Linked DNA regions of Homo sapiens: region 1 is linked to region 2. Evidence: fine-mapped expression QTL. A gene starts in region 2. The other region holds a variant in brackets. All regions are shown on one strand. Distances are from middle to middle. Region 1 has its middle 64 kb from the start of CD28. Region 2 holds the start of ABI2 (abl interactor 2).

What was found. PIP is the estimated chance that this variant, and not a neighbour inherited with it, causes the effect.
Region 1: its variant is fine-mapped to the expression of ABI2 in whole blood (TOPMed, PIP 0.99).

Annotation. Positions count from the first base shown.
Region 1 is chr2:203,640,758-203,643,657 of GRCh38, forward strand. No RefSeq gene overlaps it. Among named protein-coding and RNA genes, the nearest start is that of CD28, 64 kb to the right of the region's middle. The variant C/G (reference allele first, on the strand shown) is at 1,414.
Region 2 is chr2:203,326,752-203,329,651 of GRCh38, forward strand. It overlaps ABI2 (abl interactor 2), which reads left to right and starts at 1,643. Exons shown (of 12, transcript NM_001375670.1): 1 at 1,643-1,880. The coding sequence starts at 1,764. RefSeq lists an enhancer at 530-1,500 and silencers at 1,302-1,641, 1,398-1,585, 1,862-2,211.

The DNA.
Region 1 (2,900 bases), 310 kb after region 2:
ATTGTGAACAGTGCTGCAACAAACATATCTCTTTGATATACCGATTTCCTTTTTTTTTTTTTTTTTTTTTTGAGAAGGAGTCTCACTCTGTCTCCCAGGCTGGAGTACAGTGACACGATTTCAGCTCACTGCAAGCTCCGCCTCCCGGGTTCATGCCATTCTCCTGCGTCAGCCTCCCGAGTAGCTGGGACTACTCGGGAGTCCCAGCACCCGCCACCACGCCTGGCTAATTTTTTGTATTTTTAGTAGAGATGGGGTTTCACCGTGTTAGCCAGGATGGTCTCGATCTCCCGACCTCGTGATCTGCCCGCCTCGGCCTCCCAAAGTGCTGGGATTACAGGCGTGAGCCACCACGCTTGGCTCCGATTTCCTTTCTTTTGGGTATATATTCAGCACTGGGATTGCTGGATCATATGGTAGCTCAATTTTTAGTTTTTTGAGAAACCTCCAAACTTTTCTCCATAGTGGTTGTACACAGTGTATGAGGGCTCCGTTTTCTCCACGTCCTCACCAGCATTTGTTACTGCCTGTCTTTTGTATATAAGCCATTTTAACTGGGGTGCTATATCTCCTTGTAGTTTTGATTTGCATTTCTCTGATGATCAGTGTTGTTGCACCTTTTCCTGTTCCTGTTTGCCATTTATATGTCTTCTTTTGAAAAATGTCTGTTCAAATATTTTGCCTATTTTTGATTGGATTAGATTTTTTCCTATAGAGTTGTTTCAGCTTCTTATATATACGGGTTATTAATCCCTTGTCGGATGGGTAGTTTGCAAATATTTTCTCCCATTCTGTGGGTTGTCTCTTCACTTTGTTGATTGTTTCCTTTGCTGTGCAGAAGCTTTTTACCTTGATGTAATCCCGTTTGTCCATTTTTTGCTTTGGTTGCCTGTGCTTTTATGAGTTTTTGCTCAAGGAATTTTTGCCCAGACCAATGTCCTGGAAATTTTTCTGATTTTTTCTTGTAGTAGTTTCATAGTTTGAAGGAGTGGATATTCATATTCCATTTTTTGTAGACGAGAAAATATAAAAAGGGTGGCCAGGCGCGGTGGCTCCCGCCTGTAATCCCAGCACTTTGGGAGGCTGAAGTGGGCGGATCAGGAGTTCAGGATGTGTCCGGAATTGGTGGGTTCTTGGTCTCAATGACTTCAAGAATGAAGCCGTGGACCCTCGCGGTGAGTGTTACAGTTCTTAAAGGCGGCGTGTCCGGAGTTTGTTCCTTCTGATGTTCGGATGTGTTCGGAGTTTCTTCTTTCCGGTGGGTTCGTGCTCTCGCTGGCTCAGAAGTCAAGCTGCGGACCTTTGTGGTGAGTGTTACAGCTCTTATGGCGGCGCGTCTGGAGTTGTTCGTTCCTCCCGGTGGGTCTGTGGCCTCGCTGGCTTCAGGAGTGAAGCTGCAGACCTTCGCGACGA[C/G]TGTTACAGCTCATAAAGGCAGTGTGGACCCAAAGAGTGAGCGGCAGCAGGATTTATTGCAAAGAGTGAAAGAACAAAGCTTCCACAGGGTGGAAGAGGACCCCAGCAGGTTGCCACTGCTGACTAGGGCAGCCTGCTTTTATTCTCTTATCTGGCCCCACCCACATCCTGCTGATTGGTCCATTTTACAGAGAGCCAAGTGGTCTGTTTTGACAGGGTGCTGATTGGTGCAGTTTACAATCCCTGAGCTAGACACAAAGGTTCTCCACCTCCCCACTAGGTTAGCTAGATACAGAGTGTGGACACAAAGGTTCTCCAAGTTCCTACCAGAGTAGCTAGATACAGAGTGTCGATTGGTGCATTCACAAACCCTGAGCTAGACACAGGGTGCTGACTGGTGTATTTACAATCCCTTAGCTATACATAAAAGTTCTCCAAGTCCCCACCAGAGTAGCTAGATACAGAGTGTCCATTTGGTGCATTCACAAACTCTGAGCTAGACACAGGGTGCTGATTGGTGTGTTTACAAACCTTGAGCTAGATACAGAGTGCCGATTGGTGTATTTACAATCCCTGAGCTAGACATAAAGGTTCTCCAAGTCCCCACCGGACTCAGGAGCCCAGCTGGCTTCACCCAATGGATCCCGCACCAGGGCGCAGATGGAGCTGCCTGCCAGTCTGGCGCTGCAGTGTGCCCGCACTCCTCAGCCCTTGGGTGGTCGATGGGACTGGGCGCCGTGGAGCAGGGGGCAGCGCTCGTCGGGGAGGCTCGGGCCACACAGGAGCCCACGGAGGGGGCGGGGGGGAGGCTCAGGCATGGTGGGCTGCATGTCCCGAGCCCTGCCCCACGGGAAGGCAGCTAAGGCCCGGCGAGAAATTGAGCACAGCAGCTGCTGGCCCAAGTGCTAAGCCTCTCACTGCCGGGGCGGCGGTGCCGGCCGACCGCTCCGAGTGCGGGGCCCGTGGAGCCCACACCCACCTGGAACTCGCGCCGGCCCGCAAGTACCGCACGCAGCCCGGTTCCCGCTCGTGCCTCTCCCTCCACACCTCCCCGCAAGCTGAGGGAGCCGGCTCTGGCCTTGGCCAGCCCAGAAAGGGGCTCCAACAGTGCAGTGGCGGGCTGAAGGGCTCCTCAAGTGCCACCAAATTGGGAGCCCAGGCAGAGGAGGCGCCGAGAGTGAGCGAGGGCTGTGAGGACTACCAGCACGCTGTCACCTCTCAAGGAGATCGAGACCATCCTGGCTAACACGGTGAGAACCCGTCTCTACTGAAAATACAAAAAATTAGCCGGGCGTGGTGGCGGGCGCCTGTAGTACCAGCTACTCAGGAGGCTGAGGCAGGAGAATCTTGTGAACCCGGGAGGCAGAGCTTGCAGTGAGCTGAGATGGCGCCACTGCACTCCAGCCTGGGCGACACAGTGAGACTCCGTCTCCAAAAAAAAAAAAGGGTAAGTTTGCTCAAATTCACACACACTTGGTAAATAACAG
Region 2 (2,900 bases):
GCCAATATAACATTAGGGTTTGCTCCAGATATTTGTAATGATATGGTATTAAAGTGATTTTTTTTTTTTTTGAGACGGAGTCTCGCTCTGTCGCCCAGGCTGGAGTGCAGTGGCACGATCTCCGCTCACTGCAAGCTCTTCTCCCAGGATGACGCCATTCTTCTGCCTCAGCTTCCCGAGTAGCTGGGACTACAGGCGCCCGCCACCATGCCCAGCTAATTTTTTTATTTTTATTTTTAGTAGAGACGGGTTTTCACTGTGTTAGCCAGGATGGTCTCGATCTCCTGACCTCGTGATCCGCCCGCCTCGGCCTCCCAAAGTGCTGGGATTACAGGCGTGAACCACCGCGCCCGTCCTAAAGTGATTTTTTTTTGAAAGTATAAGTTTCCTCATCATCTGAATGAAAAAAATTCACTGTAGGAGGGCCAAGAGATCACCAGATTAAGAAAAGTGTTGAAACAATGGATCTTGTTCTAACTACACAAGTCTAAGATGGTACTGCCTGGAATCAACTTTGATTTTCCACAGCACAAATAAAGGTCATGGCTTCATATCTCAGCAATGGTCAGGAGTTTTAGTTTTTCCAGATTACATTGTGTGGGGTAGTCTGATTTAGGAAAACAAGACACAGTATCTGGAGAATAAAAACAGAATTATAACTCTGCAAGAGGAAAATTATCTGCCTTGAATTTTTGTAGCACTTAATGTTTTTTCAAGGTATTTTCACAATAAACGTTGATTTTATCTATGTAACAGCCCTGTGAAGAAGGCAATTACTACTAGCAAAATCGTTTTCAAAATTTTAAATACTGAATCCATGAATAGGAAAAAGGACAGCGAAGTTGATAGCATTAGAGAAATGACAGAAAAGGTTATGAGTGAGGAAGCGAATCATAGAAATGGCAAACATAAAAAGCTGAGGCCCACGGCACCGCAAACCAGGAGAGAAAGGGGCTAATCTGGCAGGGGAGAACAGCGTTAGTGGGGAAGTGCAAAGAGGCAGGGGCGCAGGAAAGCTGGGGTTAGGAAACTGCAATTCACTGCAACAAAGAGGATGAGGTCAAATCTGAGAAAAATGAAGTCAGGTGGCATTGAAAGCTGCGTGGAAGTTTTATTCCTGCCCTGTTGAGGTGTGATCTTTCACAGAGGAGGGTCCCAAGAGTGGAGGCTGTGCCCTCCTTCGGCCTCCCGTCAGCAGCAGAGGGAGAAAAGCCTCGAGAAGTTCCCTAGGCCGATGACCTCCATGGGGACGGAGCCGAGATGAGTCCCGGAGGGAGCCGGCAGGAAGCCAGCTGAGCAGGGTGGTGTGTTCCCGCCGGGCTAACAAAGGCCGCCGGGAGGTGGGGGCTTCTCCAGCCGCTCCAGCGGCGGGCGGGCGGCGGAAGGGTTAACTGCACCACCAACTCCCGCGCGCATCCCGGCCCCTACCCCCGCCGTCGCTAGGAGACGCCGGAAGTGGGGGAGGGGCCGGCGGCGCGGGCGAGGGTGGGAATCTTTTTCGGGCTCCCGGGGGCGGAGGGAAGGGAGCGCGCGTGCGCGCGCCCGGCCGGCCGTCGCCGCGGTGACCGTCCTCGGAGTCCGTCGGCTCGCGCCCCGCCCCCGTCGCCCCCTCCCCTGTCGCGCGCTGGGGCTGTTTCTCGCTCCTTCCGAGTTACCGCCGCCGTCGCCGCCGCTCCTCCTCTCCCGGTCCTGGGTTTCCTTGGCGCTGCGGCCGCCGCTCCCTCTGCGACCTGTATGAGGAGGAGGAGGAGGAGGATGTGAAGATGGCGGAGCTGCAGATGCTGCTGGAAGAGGAAATCCCGGGGGGCCGCCGGGCCCTCTTCGACAGCTACACAAATCTGGAACGGGTGGCCGATTACTGCGAGAACAACTACATACAGGTGCGAAGCATCCCCAGCTGGGCCGCGTCGGGGACCCCCCCGCCGGGGGCCGCGCGCCTCGGGGCGTGGGGCCGAGGCCGCCTCGGGGACACGGCCCAGCGGAGCCCCCGATGGGGGTGGGGAGCTGGGTGAGGGCTGGGGCTGGTGAATGGGTGGGAATTCTCCGGCTGGAGAAACTGCATTTTAAAAACCTTTAAAAAAGCGGTGAAGCAGTTCTCGGCGTGGTGCGTGTGTCGCGTCCCGCCTCCTCGCCGCTCCCGCCCTCGGCCGCCCCCGCACTCCGCGCCGGTCAGCGTTCCGGATGGCGGAGGGGGCGGAGAGTGGCATTTTCTGTTTGACGGAATCCTGCTCCCCACCTTAGGGTAGGGGTGTCGCGGGTGTTGACGGGTTACCTCCATCCCCCAAATTCTGGATGATTTTTAAGGGGTTATCTTGCTGCAGAGTGAAGTGCTTCAGGCTTCAGTTTTCTGTTCCTGTGAATGCTTCAGAAACCCTTTCTTAATATTTTATGTTCTAAAGGGGATACGGTAGAAGAGCAGCAGTTTCTTGTTGGAAGTTAATGCCATTTTTTTCCCTATGGAGAAGGATGATGAGCTGATTCCCCCCTCCCTCCTAGTTCTGTTAGAATAGGCAGTTTTCCTGGGGGTGGGAGGAGGACAGACTATGACTGTTTCTTAGAGAGAATTGGGAAGATGAACCTCCTGGTTTAATTTTTTTTTTTTTTTTTTTTTTTTACCGTGATGGATCGTTTGGCTCAAGGGCTGATAGTGGTAGGGGCGTGTGTATGGAGGCGGGGGATACCGGATGGTATGAGATCCAGCTGCTCCTGGATGAAGCAAAATATTCTGTGGATTAAAAAAATCCTTCTTTAAAAATTACTTGAAAGGATAGCAGGTTAAAAGGCACAGTTTGCAAAATCTAAAATCTTTTGCTTTTTTTTTTATGGTTATTTTGAATTATGGGTTCTGCCTCCATTTTTTTTCTTTCCCGTTTAAATTCTCTTGGGATAAAGATGGAAAT